7 linked regions of the Homo sapiens genome follow. The protein of the gene in region 7 purifies or fractionates together with the protein of the main gene of each other region. This does not show direct contact. Each region holds a gene or a part of one and is shown on either strand. Other genes may lie near its edges. The genes, in order: ECPAS, HEPHL1, PKP1, EIPR1, LYG2, MACROH2A1 and KDELR2.

What was found.
Region 1: the proteins of KDELR2 (region 7) and ECPAS purify together in Homo sapiens (affinity purification with mass spectrometry; one large-scale study listed by BioGRID and IntAct). This does not show direct contact.
Region 2: the proteins of KDELR2 (region 7) and HEPHL1 purify together in Homo sapiens (affinity purification with mass spectrometry; one large-scale study listed by BioGRID and IntAct). This does not show direct contact.
Region 3: the proteins of KDELR2 (region 7) and PKP1 purify together in Homo sapiens (affinity purification with mass spectrometry; one large-scale study listed by BioGRID and IntAct). This does not show direct contact.
Region 4: the proteins of KDELR2 (region 7) and EIPR1 purify together in Homo sapiens (affinity purification with mass spectrometry; one large-scale study listed by BioGRID and IntAct). This does not show direct contact.
Region 5: the proteins of KDELR2 (region 7) and LYG2 purify together in Homo sapiens (affinity purification with mass spectrometry; one large-scale study listed by BioGRID and IntAct). This does not show direct contact.
Region 6: the proteins of KDELR2 (region 7) and MACROH2A1 purify together in Homo sapiens (affinity purification with mass spectrometry; one large-scale study listed by BioGRID and IntAct). This does not show direct contact.

Annotation. Positions count from the first base shown.
Region 1 is NC_000009.12:111,369,215-111,373,424, reverse strand, and holds part of ECPAS (proteasome adapter and scaffold protein ECM29), read left to right. Parts: intron 1-18; coding exon 19-110; intron 111-188; coding exon 189-255; intron 256-804; coding exon 805-996; intron 997-1,595; coding exon 1,596-1,804; intron 1,805-2,659; coding exon 2,660-2,703; intron 2,704-2,797; coding exon 2,798-2,990; intron 2,991-4,210. UniProt on the Homo sapiens protein: Adapter/scaffolding protein that binds to the 26S proteasome, motor proteins and other compartment specific proteins. May couple the proteasome to different compartments including endosome, endoplasmic reticulum and centrosome.
Region 2 is NC_000011.10:94,107,897-94,111,783, reverse strand, and holds part of HEPHL1 (ferroxidase HEPHL1 precursor), read right to left. Parts: intron 882-3,887; coding exon 719-881; intron 248-718; coding exon 179-247; intron 93-178; coding exon 1-92. UniProt on the Homo sapiens protein: Is a copper-binding glycoprotein with ferroxidase activity. It oxidizes Fe(2+) to Fe(3+) without releasing radical oxygen species. May be involved in the regulation of intracellular iron content.
Region 3 is NC_000001.11:201,317,846-201,322,055, reverse strand, and holds part of PKP1 (plakophilin-1), read right to left. Parts: intron 3,439-4,210; coding exon 3,261-3,438; intron 2,241-3,260; coding exon of another isoform or gene 2,178-2,240; intron 1,790-2,177; coding exon 1,675-1,789; intron 79-1,674; coding exon 1-78. UniProt on the Homo sapiens protein: A component of desmosome cell-cell junctions which are required for positive regulation of cellular adhesion.
Region 4 is NC_000002.12:3,367,646-3,371,855, forward strand, and holds part of EIPR1 (EARP and GARP complex-interacting protein 1), read right to left. Parts: intron 1-4,210. UniProt on the Homo sapiens protein: Acts as a component of endosomal retrieval machinery that is involved in protein transport from early endosomes to either recycling endosomes or the trans-Golgi network.
Region 5 is NC_000002.12:99,241,389-99,246,019, forward strand, and holds the end of LYG2 (lysozyme g-like protein 2 precursor), read right to left. Parts: intron 4,071-4,631; coding exon 3,874-4,070; intron 2,750-3,873; coding exon 2,611-2,749; intron 1,095-2,610; coding exon 976-1,094; 3' UTR 858-975; downstream 1-857. UniProt on the Homo sapiens protein: May act as a potent antibacterial protein that may play a role in the innate immunity.
Region 6 is NC_000005.10:135,336,765-135,340,649, reverse strand, and holds part of MACROH2A1 (core histone macro-H2A.1), read left to right. Parts: intron 1-1,074; exon of another isoform or gene 1,075-1,222; intron 1,223-2,636; exon of another isoform or gene 2,637-2,719; intron 2,720-3,885. UniProt on the Homo sapiens protein: Variant histone H2A which replaces conventional H2A in a subset of nucleosomes where it represses transcription. Nucleosomes wrap and compact DNA into chromatin, limiting DNA accessibility to the cellular machineries which require DNA as a template.
Region 7 is NC_000007.14:6,473,816-6,478,025, reverse strand, and holds part of KDELR2 (ER lumen protein-retaining receptor 2), read left to right. Parts: intron 1-3,741; coding exon 3,742-3,842; intron 3,843-4,210. UniProt on the Homo sapiens protein: Membrane receptor that binds the K-D-E-L sequence motif in the C-terminal part of endoplasmic reticulum resident proteins and maintains their localization in that compartment by participating to their vesicle-mediated recycling back from the Golgi.

The sequences.
Region 1 (4,210 bases), on a different chromosome or scaffold from region 7:
TCTCTTTATTTCTGGTAGGTAAACTTATGAGTGCTTTGCTGAGTGGCCTGACAGATCGGAACAGTGTGATTCAGAAATCTTGTGCATTTGCTATGGGCCATTTAGTTCGGGTGAGTTAAATTTCTTGCTTAGTTAAATAAAACTCTTTGACAGTTATAAAGAAATACTTAGGATTGTTTCTTTTTCAGACCTCACGGGATAGCAGCACTGAAAAACTCCTGCAGAAGCTCAATGGGTGGTATATGGAGAAAGAAGGTACCTTTCTTTTTCTATTTTATGTCATTTTAAATTTAGATGTTAACAGCCCAGTAAAACAGTACAAATTAGGTCTTACCCTCCATGATTTTATGTGATTTGCTAGAAACATTTGTTTCTTTTCTTTTCTTTTTTTTTGAGATGGTGTCTGGCTTTGTCGCTGAGGTTGGAGTGCAGTGGTGCTATCTCAGCTCACTGCAACCTCAGCCTCCTGGGCTCAAGCGATTCTTGTGTCTCAGCCTCCTGAGTAGCTGGAACTACAGGCACGTGCCACCACGCCTGGTTAATTTTTGTATTTTTTGTATAGGTGGGGTTTCGCCATGTTGCCCAGGCTGGTCTTAAACTCCCGAGCTCAAGCTATCTGCTCACCTTGGCCTCTCAAAGTGCTGGGATTACAGGTGTAAGCCACCACAACCCAGCCTGCTAGAAACATTTCTAATTGATTTTACCTGTTTGTTTTGCTATTATATGAGTTGAACAATAGCCTGTTTAGATCAGTTACCCTTAAAAACAATAAATATCGTAAAGATTTTGGTTTCTCCTTTTCAGAACCTATCTACAAGACCTCTTGTGCTTTGACTATTCATGCTATTGGACGATACAGCCCTGATGTATTAAAGAATCATGCAAAAGAAGTCCTGCCTCTGGCATTTTTAGGCATGCATGAAATTGCTGATGAGGAGAAATCCGAAAAAGAAGAATGTAATTTATGGACCGAAGTGTGGCAGGAAAACGTACCTGGTTAGTAGTGTGGCCTGAGTTAAACCTGCTTCTTAGGAATCACAGCTAGAATTTTTTACTTGCATTCGTTATTCATAAACTCCTCTGAAGTTACTTTCCCAGGACCTTAATATGCATCCCATTTAGTTTTAAACCCATCCAAATTGCTCATCCCATTTAGTTTTGAACCCATCCAAATTGCTGAGTTCTCAAGGTTGGCACTCAGGATTTTTGTCTTTACTCATTCATCACTGCCCACATGAGAGAATATAAACCCTGTGAGCAAGGAGAGCTTTACATTTTTAATTAAGAGTGTGATTTTATGTGGCCTTAGAGTATTTTAGAGTAGTTTTCTAAATGTGTTTTTCACCTTGTCGCATATTAATTGATGATGCCCATTTGTGTGATACGTTCCTGTGGGCACCCAAGTTCGTAAAGTTCTACTATTGTGAGAATAAGTCACAACACCAACACACTTTCTCTCCCTTTGAGAGAGTGGTGTGTTTTAACAGTTGAGAGTCACTGCTTTTAGACTGTTGGTCACTGACTTTTTTTCAGGTTTAGAAAAATCAGTTAATTTTTCTTGTCACTTAAAAGTTGTTTTAATTTTGCTTTCCTAGGATCCTTTGGTGGCATTCGATTATACCTGCAGGAGTTAATTACTATTACCCAGAAGGCTTTGCAGTCTCAGTCCTGGAAAATGAAAGCCCAGGGTGCAATTGCCATGGCATCAATTGCAAAACAGACTAGCTCTCTAGTACCTCCATATCTCGGAATGATACTGACCGCATTGCTGCAAGGCCTGGCTGGAAGAACGTGGGCAGGAAAGGTAAAGGAACCATTCATACCCAGTTAAAGGGATTCTGACTTCATCTTTCATTTTGCATAATAGTAACGATCTGGTTTTGTGTAACTTTTCCAATGGATTATTTTTGTGAACTAGATTTCCTAGACAGTGGAAGCTTTGGGTAAACCTTGCCTGATTAACTGTGGTATTTCCTCTCAAACTGCAACCCGTGTGGCCTTGCATAATGGACAGTAATGCTGGAGATAGATACATTTTCCATATTCAGCCTTCCAAGTTACGTCTTAAACCAACTTGTCAGCATTTTGTACCTGTTGACCTCATGAACAGATCAGGATTGGGCATAGAAAGATCAGGATTGGGCATATGTGAAATAGAGTAGCAAGGTAGCCTGCCTCTAAACCTGGGGCTGAAGATGCCCATCTCTGGGACCTATGAATTAGTAACAGTTATTTTTTTACACAAGAGCTTTAGTAGGATTCTTAACAGTGAACACTCAGTGGGGAACATGAGATTGTGGTAACCTAATGATCTTTATGTTGTAAAGGTCAATAGTGGCCCATGCAGGAATGAAGTAGTACCGGACTGGGAGTCAGACATCATTCCAATTCTGTGGTTGACACTGTTTTCTGTGAGACCTGGGTCGAATCAGTTCTTTAGGCTTCTATGAAATGGAGGTGAAGATAATTATCCTACATCCATGGTTTGGAGTAAAACTTGGTGGATGTGCTTAAAATTATGCATTAAAGATAAGGTGACTGTTGTTAATTTTTGTTGTCATAGTTATCAAAAATTCCTAAGGTAATTGTAATCATGGTTTAGACAGTGTAAATGACATGTTTGGGCTTAATAGTATTTCCTCATCTTTCAACCCCTTAGGAGGAGCTATTGAAAGCCATTGCCTGTGTGGTGACAGCTTGCAGGTAAATGTTCTTTCAATGAAGATGCCATTTCTTAAACTGGACCCGAAAACTGCAGCCTTTATTAACTTCTGATGCTTTTGTATGGACCCTGTAGTGCAGAGCTGGAAAAGTCTGTGCCCAATCAACCCAGCACAAATGAAATTCTTCAAGCTGTTCTGAAGGAATGTAGCAAAGAGAATGTCAAATACAAGATTGTAGCAATCAGCTGTGCAGCTGATATCTTGAAGGCCACCAAAGAGGACAGATTCCAGGAGTTCTCTAACATTGTCATACCTCTCATCAAGAAGGTAATACCACCTGTATCCTCAGTTCTGGTTTATACTTTAAAAAGAAAAAGTTAAAAAATTGTTTTCCCCTATGTCCTGATTATTAGGATTAGTTTAGCTGCAAGTAGCAGAGAAATTCCAAAATACGGCCTTAAACAAGATAGTCAATGCTATGTTTCTCACAAAGCGTTGGGAGCATCACAAAGTGTTCAGGTATTCCGTCTCTTTACAGCTCTGAACTCTGCCATTTCTAGGGTGTGGTCATCATCCTCATGGTCCACAGTGTGTTTGTGTTCTAGGCAGGAATGCAGAGGAGATGAAGCAAGGATGAAGGATACAGTGGGCATGCCATGTCTCTCTTGAGGAGAGTTCCTGGGCACCGCTAGATGGCACTTTGACTTATAGCCATCCTGTTGGTCAGTACTTAGCCACACCTGGCAGCAGACTGAGTCTTCATTCTGGGTGTCCATTTGCCCTCCATGGGAGAAGGGGAGAGTGGATTTGGTAGTGAATGAACAGTTTATGTCATAATAAGCTTTGCCTTGGCTAATAAGCTAAGCCACCCCAGCCATCCTAGAGTAAAGGCAAGAAGCTCAGTGTGCCATGTGAATTGCCTCTGCCATATAGTGGAGGATTTGGGTCAAAAAAAGACTCAAGTTTCATGTGGAAAATGGAATACTCATTTTTAAAAGTTGGGCACTGGTCCCCCCCCCAAAAAAAAGGGTGTGGTTTCCCTGTTTATTTGTGAAACATGAAATATTTTAAGTAACATTCTTATTTCTTATTGCTCCTAAATTGCAGTTGTTTTCTTTCAGTAATAAGGCTATTTAAATAATTTCCATTACAAACATAGTGATAGCATATGGATTTGGGAGACTTGTGTTTTAAGTTGATTACATCACTAGCAAGCTGGACCAGTTGCTTCTCTTAGCCTCTGTTTCTCTATCAAGAAAGAGTTTGGATTTAGATCATTACTGAGTTTCTTCCATCTTTAAAATCTGATTCTAATGCAAGTCTTTTCATGTTATGCTCAAAAGACTACATATGCAGTATTTTTTAGCTTTTGTTTACAGATGCCTGTAAAGTATTGCCTAAATTTATTAGAGATACAGTATTCTGGTTATAAATTCTTGTTGTAAATAGGGAAACTTATGGTAGAGAATTTATCATTTAACTCTTGGTTAATATCTCCTGCCTTGGTTGGTACCCTGATAGCTTTAATAGTATACCTGTAACTTTGA
Region 2 (3,887 bases), on a different chromosome or scaffold from region 7:
TCCAATGATGAAAAGGATGACCAAGGCTGCCTTGGCTCCTGTTGGACCCAGATTCTTGCCAAAGAAATAGAGCTGCTCTTTGCCAGGTCGTTCTGTGAAAAAGATAAACTTGTCAGGCCCCTGACATTTTTGAGGGGTGAAATGTTGACTCATTTACATGGGGAGAGGGTATCATTACCGTTAGATGGCACCGTGGCTGGGTGAGATGCCACTCCAGGAGATGTGGTGGAGTAAGGAATCCTGTTGTCTGCACAAAGAAAACAAGTTCATTGTTTTATTAACAACAGAAGGGGATTCTTTTCATGACACTAGTCATTTCATTTCACCAGCGAGGACTTATCCCATCAGTATCTGCCAATCATTTCTGGATTCTTACTGTGCTACTTCATTCCCATGTACATGCTTTCCTGCCCCAGCTGTCTTTCCCACTTCTGCTCACCCACTGAGTCTATCTGGAGCATCATGGCCTCTGTGAAACTTTGGCTCATATCCTCCAACTGTTACCCATTCACTCCTACTGCTGCTATTAAGCCCTGTACTCTGCATTCTGCTACGGCACATAGCATACTTGATTATAGTTACATATTTACATATATGTCTCTCTTACTTGACTCTGAGCTTGTTGAGGGCTATATCTGGGTTTTTGTCATGCCTCCTGTTTTGGGGGTCTACAGGAAGCTCGGTGCCATCATCTGGCATCACTGACAGACAACCGTACCTATGTTACGAAGGACCGTGTAGGTTGTCTCCATGCCAGCATGGATGTGGTCAGACACATGACAGTGTAGCAGCCATGTCCCTGGGTGATCTGCAAACAGTTCAATGGTTTGGAATGTCCCAGGAAAGAGATCATACACATCTTCTCGGTAAGATTTATCTATCTGCAAAAACGTTTTAAAAAACAACAGCTAGTAGCCTTCTTTGCTCAGAACAGCAAGAACAGAAAGAAGAGCAAAAACAAATAAAACCCACAGTAAGCAAAAGGAAGGACATAAGAAAGAGCAGGAATCAAGAATAGAAGTACAATAGAGATAAGTCAAAGAAATCTAAAACTGATTCTTTGAACAGATCAATAAAATCAATAAATTCTGTAGTAGCCAGCTTCCATGATGGCCCACAATGATCCCCACCTCCTGGTATTCATAACCTTTGTGGTTCCTACCTACATTGTATAAGGGTTGGTATGCGAAATCAATAGCATGTGGAAGAAGTGCTGGCATTCCAATTCCAAGATTAGGTTATCATTACTTCTGTGTTAGATACTCTGTCACCCTCTTCTCTTGGATTACTCACTGGAGGAAGCCAGTTTTCATGTCTTATCCACATGATCAGGAGCTGAACCCTCTAGTTAACAACCATATCAGTAAGTTTGGAAGTGGATCCTCCAGCTCCAGTCAAACCTTTGAAAACTGCAGCTCCAGTCGACATCTTGATTGCCTCCTCATGAAAGATTCTGAATCAACCAACTAGTTAAACTAATCCCAAATTCCTGATCCAAGAATTACTCTAAGTTTAGAGTAATTTGTTATGCAGCAATAGATAACTAATACAAATCTCTGGACAGACTAACCAAGGGAAAAGGGAAAAGGACACATTAAAAATACTGAGAATGAAAGTGAGGACATCACTAAAATCTTACAAATATTAAAAAGGAAATACTGGACAAACACCTCTTATCCAAAAATTGTACAACTTAGATGGTATGAACAAATCCCTTAAAAGACACAAACTCCTGAAGATTACTCAAGAATACATTGATAACCTGGATAGCACTATATCTATTAAAGAAACTGTAATTGCTTCAAGATATTCCAACAAATTAAACTCCAGATGGCTTTATTGGCAAATTCTACCAAACATTTAATGGAGAAATAATACCAATTGTAAACAAACTGTTCTGGAAAATAGAAGAGGAAAGAACAGTTCCAACTCATTTTATGAGGCCAGCATTACTGTGATACCAAAACTAAACAAATGCTTTGTGAGGAAAAAAAGCTACAATCAATACTCCTCATGAACATAGATACCATCATCCATAACAAAATACTAGCAAATCAATTCCACAAAAAGGAATAATACATCATGACCAAGTAAGGTTTATCCTGGGAATGAAAAAGTGTTTAAAAACTCCACAATCAATAAATGTAATTCAGCAACAGATTAAAGAAGAAAAAGCATCTGATCATCTCAATAGATGCAGAAAAACCATTTGATAGAATTTAACATTTGTTGATGATCAAAACTCTGAGCAAATTTAGAAGGAAATTTCCTCAACCTCATAATGGGATCCACAAAAAAGCTGCAGCTAACTTTATATTCAAAGGTGAATGACTAAATGCTCCCCTTGTAAGATTAAGAACAAACTGAGGATGTCCACTTTCACCACTCATATTCAAAATTGCACTACAGGTCCTAGCCATTGCAGTAAGACAAAAGAAATAAAAGACATACAGATTGAAAATAAATGAAGCCATGTCTATTCACAGACAACATGATTGTCTGCATAGAAAATCCCCCTAAAATCTATAGGAAAACTATTGGAACTAAAGTGAGTTTAGCAAAGATGCAGGATGCAAGGTCAACATGCAAATATCAATTATATTTCTAAATATTGGCAATAAACAACTATAAATCAAAATAAAAACACTATCATTTACACTATTACCAAAGCCTTTTATATACTTAGTTATAAATAAATAAAACAAAGTATATGCAAGATCTCTATATTGAAAACTACAAAATGCTGATGAAAGAAATCAAAGAAGAGCTAAACGATAGATATACCATGTTCATGGATTGGAAGCCTCAATATTGTTATGTCAGTTCTGTCCAACCCATTGTATAGCTTCAGTGCAATACCAATCAAAATCCCAACAGGATTTTAAAAATCAAAATCAACAAATTATTTCTAAAATTTATCTGGGAAGGCAAACATCTAGAATAGCTAAAACAATCACCATCTGATTTTGAGACTTACTATAATACTAAAGTAATCAAAACATTGTGGCATTCAAGAAAGGGCAGAGTATAAACCAGTGTAACAGAAGAGACCGCCCAGACATAGACCCACATATATGTGGTCAATATGATTTTCACAAAAGTAAAGAGTCAATTCTGTGGGAAAAAAAGATGATCTTTTCAATGAGTGGTGATGGAACATTTGGACATATATATGAAAAAAAAATGAACCTTATTTCATATCTTGAACCACATATGAAAATTAAAATGTATCAGAGCCCTAAATCTAAAACTATACCACTTCTAAAAGAAAACAGAGACCTTTTTTGGGACCTTCAGTAAGGCCAAAATTTTTTATACATGACACCAAAAGTATGATCTATAAAAGAGAAAAAAGAAAAATTGTACTTCATTTTACTTCATCAAAAATTAAGAACTTCTATTTGAAAGCTGTTAAGAGAATGAAAAGATAAGCCACAAACTGGAAGCAAATATTTGTGAGTCACATCACTGAAAAAGGATTTGTATCCAGAATATATAAAGCCCTCAAACTCTACAATAAGGAAACAAGTAACCCAATTTTTTTAAATGGGCTTACAATTTGGACACTTCACCAAAGATTTACAGATGACAGATGGTAAACAAACACATGAAAAGATGCTCAATATCATTAGCCACTGGGAAAATGTAAATGAAAAACAATGAGATACCACTATATCCCCTCCCCAAGGAGGGAATGCCTAAGGGAAAAAAATGAAATAAAAACTAAAAATACCAACTGCATATGTGGATGTGCAACATATGGAGTTCTCGTATATTTCCTTGGAAATGCAAAATGATACTGCCTTTTTGGAAAACAGTTTGGTGGTTTCTTATGAAATCAAACATACACTTATCACATGGCTTAGCAATCCTACTTCTAGGTATTT
Region 3 (4,210 bases), on a different chromosome or scaffold from region 7:
CTGGCGGTAGCGGGTGGGCACCTCGGCGTCCAGGCGGTAGGAGAGGTTGTGCAGAACACACATGCAGTTTTCCACAGACTGGGGACCAAGGAGAGGCATGGGCCTGAGCCTCTGCCCGGCCCGACAGGCTCCTGGCCTACCACCTACCCTAGCTAATAAGAGAGCAGAGGCACCTGGGCTGCATCGGGAAAGATGAGCGCAGGCACCACCACACTATCAGCCTGGGAAGTCTTCCAGGGCCACCTCTGGGACCTGAGTTTGAATCTGTCATTTCCTGGCTGCATGAACTTGACTGGCCTCACTTCTCTGGGCCTCAGCTATCTCAAATGTAAAATGAGACTACAATTGTCCATTTCACTAGGCTATTTGGAAGATGATACAGAGAAAGCACTTATCACAGGGCCTAGTGTGTGGTAGGACTGCTATGGACAACATGCCAATGGGCAGACTGGGATATTGAAGAATGTGTCTTTTTTTTTTTCCAGAACAAACTCCTCCAGAAGAAGCCCCATGCCTCTAGATTCCAAAGCCATCTAGTGCCCCCATCATTCTTTCTTCCTGGGGCCAGTCCTTAGCTGTCAATGTCAGCGGTGCTAAGTCCACACAAAACACAGCAACACCTGGAGCCCAGGGCTTCATCATGGCAGCTGGGCTCAGATCTTTGTCAATCTCCTTTGGCAAACCTCCAAAGGACTAGGGTTTGGGGGCAGCAGATTTACCCTCCTAATGATGTTTGGCCCTTGCTGGGGTCTAAGGGAATCTGACTTCCAGGGCTTGGGGTTACACAGGTGTTGGAGATATTGCACACAGAGCAGAAAAGCATCTTGCCCTTTGGAAGCAGGCTGAGCAGCCCAGTGACAAGGCTCTCCTCTGTGGCCCTGCTGTTGCTTCCAGTGGAGGGAGCAGGAGATAAAATCCCTCCTTACGGCAACTGTGCTGAGAACCCAGGTGCTGTGATGTCAGCCCGTTCCCTGGCGATCTGGAGCCTGCTGGGCCTCACTATCTCCTGAGCCACTGTCCTGCCATGGTGGGAACATCTCAGCCTTCTGTTTATCTGCCCTCCACAACTTTTTTTCTTTCTGTTTGTCTGTGCTGTGTGTCCAGAAGTCCAGAGAGGGCAGCAAGATGACTGCCAATGGCTTTTCTGGGAGGCAGTGGGAAGATAGCAGTGGCAGAAGGAGCCTCATCTCAGGGGGGACACTAAGCCCTGGGGGCACCAGTATGGATTCCTCTGGGCTGTGGGGCAGGGCTCGGGGTCACAGGACAGGCCTCAGCACCACCAATGAAGCACAGCCAGCAGATGCTCGCTGGGAGCTTCCTCTGTGCCAGGCCCTCTTCGTGTTTTGCTTATTAACTAATCAAGCCTTTCAGACAACCCTTGAGGTTGATATGATTATGACCCTTTCCATTAGAGTGAAGAGTGAACCGGGAAACAGAGAGATTAGGGAAGCAGCTGCATCTACTCCACTTCTAAGTGAGGGAGAGTGGATTTGCATGGGCACGCTGTCCCCAGAGCCCACTCCTGTAGCCACCACTGAGCCCTGCATCCAGATGCCTCTTCTACCACCCCTGAGTCTGTGCTCCTGTCTTGTCACTGGGCCAGGCCTCAAAGGCACCCAGAAAATGTAGGGGGCTGGGCCTAGGGGTCAGGGTGCCACCAGGGGATGCACTCACCTTGTCGTCACAGCGGCTGGCCGCTACACAGTTCTGGACATAGGCCATGAGGGAATCAATGAGCCCTGAGTAGTTACGCATGGTCTGGCGGCCTGCATCGGCCGAGCTCAGGTTCCTGGGGGAGAGAAGAGGGTGGAAGAGGGCAGAGAAAGGGGGAAGAGAGAACGGGGAAGGTGGGGACAAGAGAGTGTGGTGGGGGACAGGCAGGAGAGAGAACAGGCAGGAGAGGGGAGGGCAGAGAGGAGACGACGGGGTGGAGATTGGAAGTTGTGGTAGAAGGAAGGAAGGAGAAGAGGAAAGGGAGGAAAGGAATGAAGAGAGGAAAAGATGAAAACGGAAGGAAAGAGAAACCATTTAGCCAATTCCGCCTGGCCCTGGCTGAGGCTGAAATGAGGTCTCATTTGCACTCAGTTCTTCTCCTCCTTCACTCTGCCCAGTAACTTTATAACTGGCAATGGCTCCATGTGGCAACGGTCCCTCCGCAGCTGCATCCCAAGGCTCACACCCTGCTACTAGTGGCCCTTTGCGGAACAAGAGCCAGAAGCTCCCGCATGCCCAGTCTCTTTCTGTGGGACAGGAAGAAGCCCTGTTGATGCTGGATCAGAAGTGGATCTGGGGGTGGCCGGGCTGGGCACCAGAAGCTCCCTCTCCACCCAAGCTGTGTTCTGCCCCCAGCAGTAGGCTCACTCCCAAGCAATGTGGGCTCATCCCCAAGCAATGTGGGCTCATCAGCCTGGTGCAGGTGGGGTGTGGCTGCTGTTGCTACCAGTAGCACATCAACCCCATAAAACTCTTAATTATCCTCACTTTTCATCTCCCCAGCCTCTCTGCTTCCTGGAGGCTGCTACCGGAGGCTGGCAGGGAGAAACACAAGTTGAGACACAGAGGCACATGCCAGCTGCACCCACCACTCTGGGGGGATTCTCAGGAGTTGGGAAAGACAAATCCCATTAAAGCAAGACAAACCCCATTAAAGACCCTAAAAGGGATCCTGCTCCAGGGTTCCAAGCCCTGTACCAGCCGCCCCTCCACACCCACCCATTTCGCCAGCTTGTAAACCACTGCTTCTAGAACAAGCCCTCCCACCAGCCCCACAGGGGCTTTGCCACACCCTGGTATGGAACTTAGGCAACTTTGGGTGAAGCAGTGCCATCTTCATGCCAATGAACATGGCAAATGGTTTTAACACCACAGCTGGGAAGTGACTCATTAGCAACCCATCGGTAGACTTTTGTCTAAAAGAACACTCTTCAAGATGATAGCACAAGAAATGCATTTTTTTTCATGGGGTGGAGGAGGGAAATGGTTGAACCAGTTTGGATATTCAGATCTAGGCATTTTCAAGCTCAGATTTCTGACTAATGTCCGCTGCATTCTCTCAAAGGGGGTGGTAGGGTCCTGGGCCTTATCCAGTTCCAGGGAAGTTAGGAAGGCCTGAGTCCCTGTGTCTTGGAGCCTGCCCATAAGAGGGAGTGCCGGGTTGTCTGTTATGTTCTATGCACCGGCTGAATGTTGGCTGAGATGGGGCTGCCTGGGGAAGGGCCCAAGGCTGGGACAAAAAGACCCCATGTATCCTCTTCTCTCACCTCAAGCAGCCTGTGGCATTGAAGAAGACCTCAGGGTCCACCACTTCCCGGGACATGTTGCTATTGCCATCGCACCAGCCAGAGAAGGGAATGATGACGCGGTCGGCCAGAACAGGCAGGGCGTCGGCAATGAGTTCCTCCTTCAGCTCGTCAGTGGAAGACAGGTTCCAGAGCAGCCCTGGGGGTCAGAGACCATCAACCCAATTTGTGCCAGGCTCAGGATGCCCTAGGGACCGAGGTAACAGCCCCAGCCTGGACTCTGGCAAATGGGCCCTACTGAAATGTCGCTTTCCAGGTAGCCCTGGTCTGTAGAACCTATTGTCTGTCTGTGTCATGAGGCTATTTCTCAATGCCCCAACCAGACTGAAGGTTCTTTGCAGGCAGGGAACATCTCAGAGTTCTCTGTCAAGGCCAAAATTATGCATGTGGAAAGTGATCAAAAAACGTTTGATTGATCAGTGGTTTTTAGTATAAATTTTAGCACTTGGAGTCTTCTAACGCTGTCTCTTTTCCATCTGAAAGTTATGCCAGAAATACTTATCAGTCATTACTCTGTACATGGTCTGATCTTCCCAGCCCAATTCTAGGTCTTCACGGTGACCTCTTCCTCTTGTGCCCCCCACCTTGAGTGCCTACCATATTTCTTGAACACAGGGTAGGTGCTTAAGGCCTGTTAACCCCTTCTCCCCTCAGTCTTACTCTCTTTCCATCACCTGGGAATCCCAGGGCTTGTGGAATATGGATCTTGCCTGGACATCAGCCTTCCTCCTTTTGCTCTTTAACCTCAAAAAGATGGTGACCCCTTGTGTGTGCACACCACCCAAGGTCACCCTCTGGACACCCCTAATTGGGCCAAGGCCAGTGTCACTAAACTCTCAGGATATTAGCCCTGGGCCAAATCTGCACAGCTGTGTCTTGGCCCAGCCTGGAGAGACAGGCTTGCACCCCAG
Region 4 (4,210 bases), on a different chromosome or scaffold from region 7:
CGCTGGGCCAATATTTAAAAAGCTATTAATGTAACTGACCAAAGAGATCAAAAGAGAAAAATCCTAAAACCAAATTATCAATTCCATGGATATAAAAAGGCATTTGAAAACTTAATCTCTCGGCTGGGTGCGGGGGCTCACACCTGTAATCCCAGCACTTTGGGAGGCCAAGGCAGACGGATCACAAGGTCAGGAGATCGAGACCATCCTGGCTAACACCCTGAAACCCCCTCTCTAAAAATACAAAAAATTAGCCAGGCGCGGTGGCAGGCGCCTGTAGACCCAGCTACTCAGGAGGCTGAGGCAGGAGAATGGCGTGAACCCGGGAGGCGGAGCTTGCAGTGAGTTGAGATCGCGCCACTGCACTCCAGCCCGGGTGACAGAGCGACTCTGTCTCAAAAAAAGAAAAAAGAAAAGAAAATTTAATCTCCATCTTCCATTTCAAAAGTCTTTCCTCACTTGGCAACAGGCAGACCCTGAAGCGCTGGCCTGGTCCATCTGTCCCTCAGACTGATGGCACAAAAAGCCAAAAGCCCACAGTCTCTTTGCCCCTCTGACCTGACTGCACTGATCTCAGGACTCCAGGAGAACCTCCCAGAACAGAAAGGAGGCACGCATATCCTTGTGTGGCTTACAACCTGCCCTGCTTGCTTCCTGGTTTTGGTGGTAAACCGAAGGGAAAGCAACTTGAAACAAGCCCAAGTCATCATTGTCACCCACCTTCCCACCCCGACCGTCCTTTCTGGTCTGGCCCAGCTCACTTGGCAGCAGTGGGCTCAAATAGGAGTTGGCAGATGTAGCCCTCACTCTGCCCACACCTGCAGGCCCTGCTTGCCGCTGGTCCATCTTAGTCACATGCCTGCCCCCAGACCTACACATGGGCAGAGCCACCACTGCCTAGAGGTTCACTGTTCCCATCACAAGGCAAGTTTGCCACATGGAGATTTGACCCACACAACAAAGAAGATCTATTAATGTCAAAAGTTCAAAGAAACATGATTGCAGGAGAGAAGTCATACTGTTTGTATGCACTTTGAGATAGTCACAAAGAACTACTGTTGTGTTAACTGACAAGTATTCATTAAACTCATATTGAGAAAATGGATTTCTACTGAGCAGTAAACTAAAAGTGTGCAAAAGCATTTCAAATATCATTTGAAATTTCATGCATTTCAAATATAATTATAAAAAAATCCAGAATCATTACCATGAATTTGCTCAGCATTTTGCGATCTTAACGACCCTCCGTGTTGGTCTTTTATTTGCAGTTGCAGTACTGCCCTTTATCTTTCAAGTGTCATTACCTTCACTCAGCGGTCAACGATCAGATCTCTATCCTTTCATGTAAAGTGTTCTCCATGGGATTTGAATGTCACTGACAAACAAACAAAAAAAAACACTATCCTTTTCAGTTTTCTTGTTTACTGCAATGATGGTTCTTCAAACTTAAGAAAGTCTTGGTCCATGATACTATCCGATAAAATCCAAGTAGCAAAAGTCAGCTACTTCTTTTAAGATAAAGAAGAAAATCCAATAATATATTTGACTACCTTAGAGAATCAATTTCATTCATTTTTCAAACCTCAGAAAATAATATTTCAGGGAGGAGCCAAGATGGCCGACTAGGAACAGCTCCGGTCTAGAGCTCCCAGCGTGAGCAACGCAGAAGACGGGTGATTTCTGCATTTCCATATGAGGTACCGGGTTCATCTCACTAGGGAGTGCCAGACAGTGGGCGCAGGTCAGTGGGTGCAGCGAACCGTGCGCAAGCCGAAGCAGGGCGAGGCATTGCCTCACTCGGGAAGTGCAAGGGGTCAGGGAGTTCCCTTTCCTGGTCAAGGAAAGGGGTGACAGACAACACCTGGAAAATTGAGCCACTCCCACCCAAATACTGCGCTTTTCCGACGGGCTTAGGAAACAGCGCACCAGGAGATTATATCCCACACCTGGCTCGGAGGGTCCTATGCCCACGGAGTCTCGCTGATTGCTAGCACAGCAGTCTGAGATCAAACTGCAAGGTGGCAGCGAGGCTGGGGGAGGGGCGCCCGCCATTGCCCAGGATTGCTTAGGTAAACAAAGCAGCCGGGAAGCTCGAACTGGGTGGAGCGCACCACAGCTCAAGGAGGCCTGCCTGCCTCTGTAGGCTCCACCTCTGGGGGCAGGGCACAGACAAACAAAAAGACAGCAGTAACCTCTGCAGACTTAAATGTCCCTGTCTGACAGCTTTGAAGAGAGCAGTGGTTCTCCCAGCACGCAGCTGGAGATCTGAGAACGGGCAGACTGCCTCCTCAAGTGGGTCCTTGACCCCTGACCCCCGAGCAGCCTAACTGGGAGGCACCCCCCCCGTAGGGGCAGACTGACACCTCACACGGCCGGGTACTCCTCTGAGACAAAACTTCCAGAGGAACGATCATACAGCAACATTCGCGGATCACGAAAATCCGCGGTTCTGCAGACACCGCTGCTGATACCCAGGCAAACAGGGTCTGGAGTGGACCTCTAGCAAACTCCAACAGACCTGCAGCTGAGGGTCCTGTCTGTTAGAAGGAAAACTAACAAACAGAAAGGACATCCAACCAAAAACCCATCTGTACATCATCATCATCAAAGACCAAAAGTAGATAAAACCACAAAGATGGGGAAAAAACAGAGCAGAAAAACTGGAAACTCTAAAAAGCAGAGCGCTTCTCCTCCTCCAAAGGAACGCAGTCCCTCACCAGCAACGGAACAAAGCTGGACGGAGAATGACTTTGACGAGTTGAGAGAAGAAGGCTTCAGACGATCAAACTACTCCGAGCTACAGGAGGAAATTCAAACCAAAGGCAAAGAAGTTGAAAACTTTGAAAAAAATTTAGACGAATGTATAACTAGAATAACCAATACAGAGAAGTGCTTAAAGGAGCTGATGGAGCTGAAAGCCAAGGCTCGAGAACTATGTGAAGAATGCAGAAGCCTCAGGAGCCGATGCGATCAACTGGAAGAAAGGGTATCAGTGATGGAAGATGAAATGAATGAAATGAAGCGAGAAGGGAAGTTTAGAGAAAAAAGAATAAAAAGAAATGAACAAAGCCTCCAAGAAATATGGGACTATGTGAAAAGACCAAATCTGCACCTGATTGGTGTACCTGAAAGTGATGGGGAGAATGGAACCAAGTTGGAAAACACTCTGCAGGATATTATCCAGGAGAACTTCCCCAATCTAGCAAGGCAAGCCAACATTCAGATTCAGGAAATACAGAGAATGCCACAAAGATACTCCTCGAGAAGAGCAACTCCAAGACACATAATTGTCAGATTCACCAAAGTTGAAATGAAGGAAAAAATGTTAAGCGCAGCCAGAGAGAAAGGTCGGGTTACCCACAAAGGGAAGCCCATCAGACTAACAGCGGATCTCTCGGCAGAAACTCTACAAGCCAGGAGAGAGTAGGGGCCAATATTCAACATTCTTAAAGAAAATAATTTTCAACCCAGAATTTCATATCCAGCCAAATTAAGCTTCATAAGTGAAGGAGAAATAAAATACTTTACAGACAAGCAAATGCTGAGAGGTTTTGCCACCACCAGGCCTGCCCTAAAAGAGCTCCTGAAGGAAGCACTAAACATGGAAAGGCATAACCGTACCAGCCGCTGCAAACTCATGCCAAAATGTAAAGACCATCGACATTAGGAAGAAACTGCATCAACTAACAAGCAAAATAACCAGCTAACAGCATGACAGGATCAAATTCACACATAATATTAACCTTAAATGTAAATGCACTAAATGCTCCAATTAAAAGACACAGACTGGCAAATTGGATAAAGAGTCAAGACCCATCAGTGTGCTGTATTCAGGAAGCCCATCTCACGTGCAGAGACACACATAGGCTCAAAATAAAAGGATGGAGGAAGATCTACCAAGCAAATGGAAAACAAAAAAAGGCAGGGGTTGCAATCCTAGTCTCTGATAAAACACACTTTAAACCAACAAAGATCAAAAGAGACAAAGAAGCCCATTACTTAAGGGTAAAGGGATCAATTCAACAACAAGAGCTAACTATCCTAAATATATATGCACCCAATACAGGAGCACCCAGATTCATAAAGTAAGTCCTGAGTGACCTACAAAGAGACTTAGACTCCCACACAATAATAATGGGAGACTTTAACACCCCACTGTCAACATTAGACAGATCAACGACACAGAAAGTTAAAAAGGATACCCAGGAAT
Region 5 (4,631 bases), on a different chromosome or scaffold from region 7:
TATGAAAGTGACGCAGAATGAAGACATAATCAGAAACAGGTGTTTGGAGTACATATATGAGGATACTGGTGAGGGTGCTAATTCATTTGCTTACTATGGATGCTGTAAAGTATGGTTAACCCATTCCTGCTACCCAGACCCCAGAGTTGCCTGGTGTCTCTTCATCTCCTTGACCTTCTTAGTTTGTTCTGTTAGCCTTCCAGTAATTTCTTTTTAATGCTTAAAATTTCTATAAGTGGTTACTTTTGCTTGCAACCAAAGAACCATAATTGATTTGGGTCCTACATGCTTATCTTCAGCCATGTTTTGTGAGGGATGGACCCCGTGAAAGAAAGCGTGTGGCAGCAACTGCTGAAAATAAGAAAAGCCAGTCCCTGGATCTTCACAGACAAAAGAAAACACAGGAGGTTGCTGTGGGTTTGAAGGACTTGGTGTATCTAACTTGAATGACAGCTTCACCTCAGTTGGCTCTCAGTTTCCCATGAAGCTAGAATTCCATCCCTATTTCTTCCATTGTCCCATGGATTGGCTGGCTTACGAGTCAGGAACTTCTCATAAGCAAAGCCTGAGGGCTCTGGGCAGATACTGGAAAAAAGACAAAGGCTCGGGTAAGGCTTACTTAACTTGTTAGCAATTCTGGTAGACAGGGAGTAGGTGGGCATTGGAATCACAGGCTAAAATGAAGCCTGGCTGGAATACCTAGGGACCATTTGCCATGATATTCACATTTACTGCAAAGTAATTATATATATGTCTATGTCCGTTTCCTAGGAACCATATTGTGAACTGGATGGATTTCTTTTATTTTTCTTTCCTTTTTTCAATGCTTATTTTCATTCAGAAAATTGGGAAATGAATTTTCTTTCATGATTTTAATCATTTCTTTGCCAGTGTTGTATACAACACATTCACGTAAAACTCTCAAAGGCGGCCATCTGAGCACTCTGCCAACCTGGCCCACCCACAGAGCTTTGCCTAGAAGCTTTGTCTTTTATAGAACTTAGCTCGAGCAATGATATCATTGACGAAGTCATTGTCTATGTCCGATGGGGTGGCAATCGCTTCAATTCCTGACTTAAAAGCTGAGAGACCACCTGAAATGAAACACAGAGAATTAGGCTCAAATATTAACTTTCAACAGAAATAAGCAATGAGCATTGCCAAGATGTTAGCTTTCCAGGCAAATCTTCCAAAGCAGGCAGTCCCAAATCCTCCTCCCTCTCCCTCCCTTTCTGAAAGGACGTGCTATCCCAAGAATCACTGGGAAAATTCCAGATTGCTTTCTTTCTCTTTTTCCAAAGTCTTTGGTTTTTCTTGTTGCAAAAATCAGATTTGCTTTTTTATGTAATCCAGGCCTGGCAGAACTAGACTCCCAGTACATCCTCTGCTGAAAATGCTTGTAACATTCTCTCATTTATTCAATAATTCACTCATCTATTCACTCACTCATTTATTCATTCAGGAAATGTTTTCAAGCACCTACTATGTGCCAGGAGAGGTGCCACACTGACTGCAAGGTACCCAAGACACACTTATTTCTTTGGGTATGTGTACATATGCATGTGTGTGCTATTTTACCCTAGAATTTTATCTCTAGTAGTTATGTATGTGTTTAACATAATTGTGCTCTGCTCTGATATCCAGAGAGGAAGATGCCTGGTCCTGATCCCTGCCTTCAAGGACCTTGAAGTAGAGACTAGAAACTGTTCTGATTAAGGCCGTTAGAGTGTGGAGGACATAACATTGGCCAATAGGAGGCAAACCTAATAGGAATTGATGTGGTTGGGTGTGAAGAGAGAAGGAACCAGAGAGCCTAAGAAAGCAATCTGGTTTTCAGGCTGGGATGACTGGCTATATTATGGTGCCTCCAAGACATGTAAAATGCAGAAGAAAGAGCAAATTTATAGTGGGAAGTTAGTGAGTTAATTCCATCTGGGAGATGCTGAACTTGAGGGGGCCTGTGGTCAGCCAAGCAGAGATTTCCACTTGGATATATAGCACCTGAAGTCCCGAAAATACTCACAGAGTAACATTGTTCAGACAATTTGGAAAGTTGTTGACAGTTTCTTATAACAGGAAAAAACCTATGAGAGGTAGGCAAACAGATAGATAGATAGATAGATAGATAGATAGATAGATAGATAGATAGATAAATTTTTTTTTGAGAGATGGGGTCTCACTCTGTCTCCCAGGCTGGAGTGCAGTGATGTAATCAATGCTCACTGCAGCCTTAACCTCCCAGGCACAAGCAATCCTCCTGGCTTAGCCTCCTGAGTAGCTGGGACTGTGTGTCACCATGCCCAGCTTTTTTTTTTTTTTTTTTTTTTTTTGTAGAGACAGGGTCTCACTATGTTTCAAGGTATCACTCAATAGCTCAGTAAGCAATGAATAAGAACCCCAACATTCTGCAGAAGAGGAAATGGAGGTTGAGGATGGAGGACCTCTCAAAGTAACTCAGTGGTTCAGGGAATGCAAATGCAGCCTCTAGACAGCTCCTCCCAGGGCCACTGCTGACCCCGTGGAAATGCTCCCAGGGAGTCTCGGGTCACACTGGCCTTCAGTGGTCTCATTCATTGCTCATTTAAACAAAGTACTCAGAATACAGCCTACCTTTGAGGTGCTGAGCAACACTCCACGTGGGGAATTTTTTCTGGATTGCCTTAATTCTCTCTGTTAGAATCCCAGTAGCCTGTGAAAGGTGCTCTTTGCTATCCCAGGCACCGACAGGGTGGTACGTTTGTTTATCAAGCTAGAAAATTCAGATAATAAAGTCAGCATCTGGATGAGGTAACACATTTTTTCTGCCATTCCTAATTTCCTCTCCTGGTATTCAAGTCATAGATACCGGCCTTTATCCCCAAAGAGTCAATTCTATTGTTCTTTCTTTCATATAGATGAGAGTCAGAGAAACAAAGTAAGGTTTGGGAGAAATGGACATGGTATAGTTTTAGCTAAACATTCTAATATACAAAAAAAAAATTTAAGTTGTTTTGAAACAAATAACACCCAAAGTCTACACATTTATAGTAATAAATAATTATCCAGCTAATTCAGATAAAAATTTGTTTCTAACTGGGAAGGCCAGAAGTCTGTATTTCTACAGACAATTTAAAATCGAGCCTGGAAGCAAATATCCAGATAATTTGGATCCCCTTCCTCCAGTTTACCCAAAGGAACAAGTTGTTTCAAGTAGGGCACAGTTATACCATGTTTTGATCCACATGGATGAAATTTACTACTTCATGAACCCCAAGAGGACACCTGTAACAATAATGCTATTTATAAGATTTTCTCAGTTTTAGTGTATTACATATTATTTATTGCAGAATGGTAGTTATGAAACTCCTAAAATACTTTTTAAAATATATCTAATAATGAATAAGCCTTGAATAAAATAAAAAGATGTGTTACAGAAATCCCAGATCAAATTATGCTGGAGTGGCCGGGCACAGTGGCTCAAGCTTGTAATCCCAGCACTTTGGGAGACTGAGGTGGGTGGATCACCTGAGGTCAGGAGTTCAAGACCAGCCTGGCCAACAAGGTGAAATCCCGTCTCTACTAAAAATACAAAAAATTAGCTGGGCATGGTGGCGTGTGCCTGTAATCCCAGCTACTCAGGAGGCTGAGGGAGGAGAATCACTTGAACCCGGGAGTGGAGGTTGCAGTGAGCCGAGATCACGCCATTGCACTCCAGCCTGGGTAACAAGAATGAAACTCCATCTCAAAAAAAAAAAAAAAATTATGCTGGAGTACCTGTAGCCAGATGCCAGGGTATTTTGGGGCTTGGAAGCACTGCAAATGGATTTCTAGTTCAGGTTGAGCTTCTGTGAGGAGGGATGCAGTGGGGCTGATAGAAAGTTTCTAGCTAAATACCTGCATCAAGCCAAATTTAAGTCCCCTGTGGTCCCAGCCGTCTTGCAGGACAGATCCGCCATGGCTTTCCCTGGAGATGATGGCTGCGATGACAGCAGGGTCCACGCAATGTCTCTGCCCGACTTCTTTGATCAGAGTCTGGTAAGGTTTTATGGCCCTCAAATCCATCTCAGCAAACATTTCAGAACCACGGATCCCTACGTCAATAGAAAAGAAACTGTTTTTCCGGGCATGGTAGTGTGTGCCTGAAGTCAGTTCCTGCTACACAGGAGGCTGAAACAGGAGGATTGCTTGAACCCAGGAGGAGTTCGAAACCAGCCTGGGCATCATAGTGAGAGCCCATCTCTAATTAAAAAAAAAAAAAAAAAGAATTTAAAGTTAAAAAAAGAAAAGAAACTGTTTCTTCTACTTCAGAAGAAAACCATTTTTAAAAATTTGCTAAGTTAGCCACAGCCTCTGATCACTGCTAATGACTTGGGACAACCATTCTAAGACATCCTTTTGATCTCTGACTGCAGAAACAAACAGATCCACAACCCCCAACAGGTGTCGCTTCTGCTCTGTTTCTCCTTCAAATTGCTCATGCCTGTAATCCCAGCACTTTGGGAGGCCGAGGTGGACAGATCACTTGAGGTCAGGAGCTCAAGACTAGCCTGGCCAACATGGTGAAACCCCATCTCTACTAAAAATACAAAAATTAGCTGGACTTGGTGGCAGGCACCTGTAACCCCAGCTACTCAGGAGACTGAGGCAGGAGA
Region 6 (3,885 bases), on a different chromosome or scaffold from region 7:
TTAGCTGAGGCCCAGTGGCACAGCCTACATGGATGGAAGATGACCATAACCACACCTGTGTGATGGCTCCCTCCAGCCTGTGAGGCCCTGGCATCTGGACATCCTGTCCTCAGCCATTCTGGTCACGATATTTATGGATACCCCCACTCCCTCAGCTCTGTTTCACATTAGGGGTGACCCCTCTCCAGAGGGGTAGTACATAGGGAATACTAGTTTGGGGCTTTGATTAAACTTTCCTTAGATTTATAAGCTTAAAAGGAAAAGCTGGTTTATTTTTTTCAAGCTACTATTTATGGGTATGTGTTGAGCCCCAGGCGCGGTGCTAAACCCTTTATCTGCATTATCTCACAGCAACCCTACAAGGTGAACAGCATTATTCCTTTCAAGGGCAAAGAAACTGAAGCATAGAGGGGTTAAGTAAATCATCTGAGGTCACTCAACTTGTACTTGGTAGAGTGAGAATTTGATCAGAAGCCCTTCGCTTCAGAGCTGTTAGGCTCATGGAACCCCTGCCTCCCATCTCCATTGGTCAGCCAGACCCCAGGTCCCACCACCTCATCCCACCATAGGACTGCCCCCTGCCTGCGTACTCTCTGTGCATAAAACACTACCTGGGAACTCCCTGACCTGCCCAAGTATAGCCATCAGCCTCTTTCCCCTCCTAAGCATTGGCCTCAGAGGTGAGATAAAAGGACAGAAACTCAAGAGACCTTTGAATGGGGGAGAATTTTTCATTTACCCAAAGCCCGGGGGCCTGGAGTGGGAGGCCACTTTGGGGCTGCCCCATCCCCTCTCTAGCTGCAGGGGGCACAGCTCAGGGGAGTGGTGGCCCCATCACCATCGCTTCTGAATGTTCTCCCTCCTGTATACCATTGCTCTCGGCTCAGGATCCTGATGACTTGGATCAAAGTGGCCTGTGGCTGGGGCAACTTCAACCTGGCAATTACTAAAAAATGGTAAAGGCCTAAGAGCAGCCCACAGCACAGTGCGAGGGGGACCTAATCTTAGCAGAAGAATGTCTATACCCTAAGTGACAGACAAAGAATACCAGAATCCACCTCTACTCCTCCCCAGCCGTCAATTGCAAGCTCGCAATCTGTCTGCTCCAGAAAAATCTCCCTGGACTCCCAGGATACAGCCTCTCCTGCTGTGACTCTCTGAGGTCCCTAATGAGCTCCTAGCCTGGATTTGCTGCATACCTGCCTGGCCCCAGCCCTGGAAGGTGAGCTCACTGAGAGCAGGGGTGCTTAGTGAAGTCCCACTCAAGGAGAGGGCTGAGAAGAGCTGGGATGTGGTCCTTGGTGCACCTAGAGTCCCTGCGTGTCCAGACAGGACCGTGGGACAAGCATCCAATGCGTACACCCCCCAGCCATTACTGAGGAGGCTGACCCAAGAGGGCATCTTGCACTGGCCCTGGGAAACTGAGGTCCAGGACTCTTGGGAAAGGCAAAGGGCATTACAGACACAACTGGAGTGAATTTAGGGAAAGCTCAGATGTCTCTTTAGTCTGCTTAAGGTCCTAGCCCTATGGTGTAGGAAACTCTTGACTCCAGAGGAACTTAAGGAACATGCCATAAACACAACCCACAGGCCAGGTCAGGGGCTGAAGAGAGAGTGGAAACAACAAACAGTGCACGCATCTCCCAGGTGGGGCTGATGGTGGCCGCAGTACTGGCAGCCTCATCATCACCACCATTGTCATCACTGCACAGACCCCTGAAACACCTAATTTCTAGTGGAGGAAATTAATGCTTAGAGAGGTTAACACCCTGGCCCAAAGCAGCTGGGATTCAAACCCAATTCTGACTCTAGAGTGGAAGCCCTTAGTCCCTCTTGCTCTGCAACATCTGATCTGAAAGATAGGCAGCACAGCTGTAGGACAGAGTGGCTGGCACAGAGGCCAGGCCAGGCAGGAATGGCTATTCAGAGGGGCCGTGGTTATGCAAGTAGCAAGTGAACCCAGCTGAGAAGCCAAAGATGCAACACCAGTGGGCATGACTGCTCCTGAAAGCAGTCAGTACTGCACTGGGGAGCCTCTATGTAGCCCCTGCTGCTGCATGCCCACGGTCACGGCCAGCAGCTCTCTGGGGTCTGAGGCCAACATTGTTAGCACCGTGTAACTGCAACGACAACAGCAGTTACCCAGTCACAGCTATCCCAGGGACGAGGGTGGAAGGGGCAGTTTTCTACTGCATGAGCCTTTTAAAAGACCCTTCAAAGCCACCTACTTTATAGACAGCTCCTCTTAACTGAAGACTCTCTGTGCCATGCCCCGGTGCTTTGCATTTTCTTGTCCCAGACTCTGATTCCATTTCACAGGATGGGGAAACAAGGCACCGAAGTGGGACCACAACTCAAATCCTGTGTGACTCCGGGAAATCCTGAGCTCTTAACCACTCTGCTTCTCTACCCTGGAGGGAGTAGGGCTGTCAGGCCACCCAAGCCTCAGAGGCAGACCTGGGTCTGACCTGCCTCAGCTGCTGCATGTGCCACCGCTGCCTCTGTCTGGAGGCTGCAGGGCTGTGTGTGGAGTGCTCTTGCAGGGCATCCACCTACACATTCCATTTTGCTACAAGCATTCTAACTGGCAGCAAGACATTTTGAGGCCCACCAGAAAACGTTAGGAAAGCCGTTACCTCCGCCATTCCTTCCTGGCAGCCTGCGCAGTCCAGAGCAGCCACAGTCCCATAGCAGGGTTTCTTCCTTAGGCTGTAGCTTCCTAGGACAGAGGGATGGATTTGTCAACAAAGGGTTGTCCTGGAAACAAATCCAGATTCATGTTCACCCACCAACAACCCTGAAATGCTTGCAAGGCCAGGGACATTCCGGTGGAACCGTCTGCTCTCTATTAACGGGACGGTAGGCAGGTGTGGGCACTGCAAGTCTAAAACATTTGATACTGACCTCTCTCCCCCACTTGCAGATCCTCAACATCTGGGTCCACCCTGCCAGCTTGGATTATAAAGTCCATGCTGGCTATTTGTAGAACAGCAGTTCTCAAAAGCTGCTAGACCTGCTGAATCAAACTGTTGTGTTTTGACAAGCTCTCCAGAATTCTGATGCAGGCTAAAGCTTGAGAACTATTGATGTAGAGGAATAGAAAAGAATATTTCCTCACTGAAAGTCACATACTCTTTTGTAAGGGTCCAAGGCAGAGGCAAGGAAAGCCTCAGGAGGGGTCTGTGTCAGAAAGCACTGGTCACAGGCAGGAGTGACTGGCACACTTTTGGTGTGTTCCAGGGAGACCCCTTGGGACCTCCCAGTCAGCATGGCATGGCATGGGCATGGGCCAGGCTACACTGTGTCTGCATCATACCACATCTCACCCAGCTTGTGTGGGATGTAGCTAACCGTTGTTGGAGACAGCTGCCTGGGCATGCAGCCCGGCTGCAGCTACAGAAGCCCTGCCCCAGGGCTAGCTCAGCTAGGCAGAACATCGGGCCACCTGACAACTGCTGTTTGCAGTAGCTCCACAGGCCCTCAGCCCAGCCCAGCTCCCTGTGCACGTGTGAGGCTGAGACAGGCAAGAGGGCACCTCACTGTAGGGACCTTGGAGCTGGCAGAGCATGGTCTTGGGATTCACATGCAAAATGCAACTTCTCACAGCTCCTCTCAGCACCCTGCAGCCCCCGTTGATCCAGGTCACATCCACAGACTGGGCTCTGCCTGCTCCAGAAGCCCTTGGCCCCTAAGTACAGGCTGCAACAGGACCGAGGATCCCAGCCCACAGTTAGAAGCAGCCTGAGCTGCTGGAAAGATGCCCCCCAAAAATGGAAGATTGAGTTTTTATCTCCTCAAGCAATTCTCAACGTGGCTCATTCCAGATAACCTGTCCTCTGTGCTCCTTGACTCCTGTGAATATAGTCAGGGCAGCTCTGCCTGGTG
Region 7 (4,210 bases):
TTTGACAATATCAAATTTTAAAATGTTCATGTCTTATTTTTGGTTTATGTGTTTTAATTTGCATTATTTGGGGTTACGGATTAAAATTTTTTAATTGATACATTATGATTGGATCTATTTATGGGGTACAGTTTGATGTTTCAATACATGTGTATGTTGTATAGTCTAATCTGGGTAGTTATTTCCGTCACCTCATGTGTTTATCATTTCTTCATTCGAAAACTTCTAACTATTTTGTAATATATAATACCTCATTGGGAAGATTGCTTGAGCCTAGGAGGTCAAGGCTGGAAGCTATGATTGCACCAGTCTACTCCAGCCTGGGCTACAGAGAGAGACCCCATCTCGAAAACAAAACAGAAAACAAAAGACATTTAACCTGGCCCAGTAGGATAAGACAAGAATGATGTTGTTTAATGACTGATTTCCATTTAACAAGTTGTACTCCTTAATATAGATGTTTGGTGTATTTGGTAAGGGGATATCAGTTTCAGAAACATTTACAAAAGTGAGTATTCTGGGAGATCTTATTACCTGGTAACCTTAGCATGCTTTGATCTCAAAGTGGAGAGAAGCCGACTAGGAGCTGCTCTGGTTTAATAGCAGGTATTCTACTCCCAACCCCTCCAGGAGATTCTTGCCCCACCCCCTTCTGTCTTCAGCTAGGATTCCCATTTTCCTATGAAGACAGGACAGTTTTGTTGTTTTAAAGGAAGAAGCTGCTACTTCCTAATCAGGATCTCAGGCTGGGGAAGAACAGTGTGGGACCACGTTAGCATCCGCAGATTTCCAGCAAGGCTGTCCTGCGTGGACGCTACTCCATGGACCGGCTTCAAACCACACACTGCCCTGTGCGCACCTGGGGCTCTCTCACCCTCTAGCTAGTAGTTAATTAGGGCAGAGCCCTATTTACAGTCACAGAGACACAGTATGACCTGGACATTCTTCAGAAGTGTTCTCCCAAAATACCACAAAATGAGAATTTGACCCCATGACATGAAGATAAAATGAATCCCATTTTCTTTTGTCCATTTATTCATTCAGCAAATATTTTCTGAGTCCTGCTGTGTGTCAGGGCCCAGTGTCCCATGCAGGGAATACAAGATGGAATAAGGCATGACCCCAGCCTTTAAAGATCTTGGTACTGAGTGAGGTTTTTGGGGAGAGGAGAGGCAGGAACCACATCATCACAGTGTATTTTTATAAGTACTGTAATTGGAGCTAGGGCAGCAGCTGGCATGAAGCAGTTCCCCTTATGTGCTTGCTGAATGAATCAACAGTCCTGAGGGAGGGTATCTTCAGAGATGACATCCCAGAGGAGGTGGGATATGAGCTGGGTCCCCACGGGGGCTGGTAAAGACAATATGATGGTCCCTGGTTTTCAGTATAGGAATGCTGGGAATGAGGACACAATTTCAAATCTGCCTGGCTTCCAAAGTTCTGTTAGAGTAAAACCCTTTCCCACAAAATTCACCTACTTGTATCCTGTATGTTTATATTTAAAATATTGGAAAGAACCATATAGGAAATAAGCTGGAAATTGATTTCTCAAGGCTTCAACAAACACCAGGTATGGTCTGACTGCTCCCTGTTCTTTCTTCTTCCCCCTCTGAAACCTCCCGGTTTCTTGGTTAGCAGCAGCCTTGTCATTTCCCCTTTGGAACATTGGTCTCTGTAGGAAGAAATCAGTTATCCGTTACGGGGAAAAGACTAAGAGCAGATTCACTGTCCGTGTCTCCTCCTTTGGCCCTTTGGTTTCTATTGATGGATCTGGAAGGGTGGCATCAACATTTTTTTCCATTTCTATTTAGATGTGTATGTGAATAGGCTGAGACTACAGTTATTCATCTGAGAAAGTAACATTCTTACATTCAGGTTTTCAGTTTCAGCAAGCTGCAAAATGATTGTTCATAAAATATTGAAAAACAACATGTAATACAAATATTAGCCAGGTGTGGTGGTGCACCCACCTGTAGTCCCAGCTACTCAGGAGGCTGAGGTGGGAGGATCACCTCAGCCCAGGGAGGTCAAAGGTGCAGTGGGCTGTACTTGTGCCACCGCACTCCAGCCTGGGCAACAGAGTGAGACCCAGTCTCAAAAAAAGAAAAGAAAAATAATGTGCTTTTCACGTTCCAGAGGAGTGTTGTGAATGATTTGGGTGAAGTGACTTTTCTGTTAAATTCATACTTACTAAAATGTGTAGTGGTGTGAAGTATGCATTATAGATGAGGGTGGGTGGGTTCTGACATTTAGTCAGCCTTCAGTTTCTTTAATGCATTTGCTCAGTCTCCAGCATCTGAAACCCATAGTTTGCGTCCTTTGTCACATAAATATTTGGCCAAATATAGATGTCAGAAAAGCTGTGTGCACACCACATAAATGTCCAGCCTTCCTGGCTGAGTGTGGCTGTGCCATGCAGTGCTCTGGAGGTGGGTTGGTGGTTGGAAGTGGAAACACAGTTTCAAGGCTTTAAAAAAGACAGCTGCTTTTGAAGACCAGCTGTAGTTGTGGGTTCATACCTTCATGTTGTCCTAGCATTCAGGAACATTTTTATACAAATACAATGGAATTTCTATTTTATTGTAATTAATTTATTTTTTGAGACAGGGTCTTGCTCTGTCACCCAGGCTAGAGTGCAGGGATGTGACCACAGCTCACTCAGCCTCAGCCTCCTGGAGTCACGCAATCCTCCCACCTCAACCTCCCATGTAGCTGGGACCACAGGTGTGTGCCACCTTGCCTGGCTATCACTTTTCTATTTTTCGTAGAGATGGAGTCTGGTCTCAAACTCCTGGGCTCAAGCGATTCTCCCGCCTTAGCCCCCCTATATGTGGAGATTATAGGCATGACCACTATGCCTAACTGAGAGGGAAGCTTTAAAAATCTTAACATATCCAAGTAATTGCCGCTCTTAGCAAAGAAGTCACCATGGGATGCGATGCCATTATTCCAGCGGGAGTTCCTGCCCAACTCTTACCTGAGTCGGTGCTTCTCATCTACTCCTCATCCCCCTTAATGACAGTAGACTCCATCTCCGTTCTCAAAAGATTTCTCACCATGGAGATACTGTTTTACCATACAAAGAAGGGACCAGGCGACATGGCTCATACCTGTAATGCCAACGCTTTGGGAAGCTGGGCCCAGGAGTTCAAGACCAGTGTGGGCAACATGGTGAACAAAAAATTTGTTTAAAAATTAGCTGGGTGTGGTAGTTCACACCTCTAGTCCCACCTACTCTGGAGGCCGAGGTGGGAAGATTGCTGAAGCCCAGGAGGTCAAGGCTACAGTGAGCTTGATCGTGCCTCTGCACTCCAGCCTGGGCAGCAGAGGGAGACCCTGTCTCAGGGGAAAACAAAAAAGAAAAATCTGAATGTAAGAGACAAGTTATAACACTAAATGACAGCAGAATTATTGAGAAATTTGTTCCTACTTAAGGTGATATATTTGAGAAGTAAAAGGTTCGTTTGAATGATACACATCCTGGCATAATAAAGCCCCTTTCCTGTGGTCGCCCTTTATAGTGAGACAGAAAAGCCTGTTAGAGCCTCCCAAAAGGAGCATGTTTGGGAATGGGAAGGGATAGAAAAACTACAACTGCTCTTGTTCATTCAGAGCCATCCCTAGACCTGGGCCTTGACCCCACGCACCCCTCCTTCCCTGTCTGCACTCCCTGCACAGTGTGATCCACAGGAATCCCAAAGCTCTTCAGGCCCTTCTAATACTTCCCTTCTGTTTCTCTAGGTATTTCTGGGAAAAGCCAGCTTCTGTTTGCACTGGTCTTCACAACTCGTTACCTGGATCTTTTTACTTCATTTATTTCATTGTATAACACATCTATGAAGGTATGGTATGCCATCCACAGGAATGTATTTCATCTACAGTGCACAGGTCTATGGACACTTAATTTATGTCAGCTGTGTATTTTTAATTAAAATGCTCCAAAAATAATGTCTTAATATGCTGTTCTTGACTTTAAAACTTTCAGACCACCTTGTATATATAACTGGGACTAAACGAGCTATCAGTAAGCATACATTTTTGGTTTCAAAACAGTAGTTAATTAAAATACTTTGAAGTTAGAACTTTTTTATTTTAGGTTCCTTAAGTATGATAAATCTAAAGCTCTTGATAACTCTGTAAGTAAGAGCGGTAACTATTATATTTTCAAGCCGTGGGAAATTACAGAGTCCCCAGAGAAATCCAGCAAGTT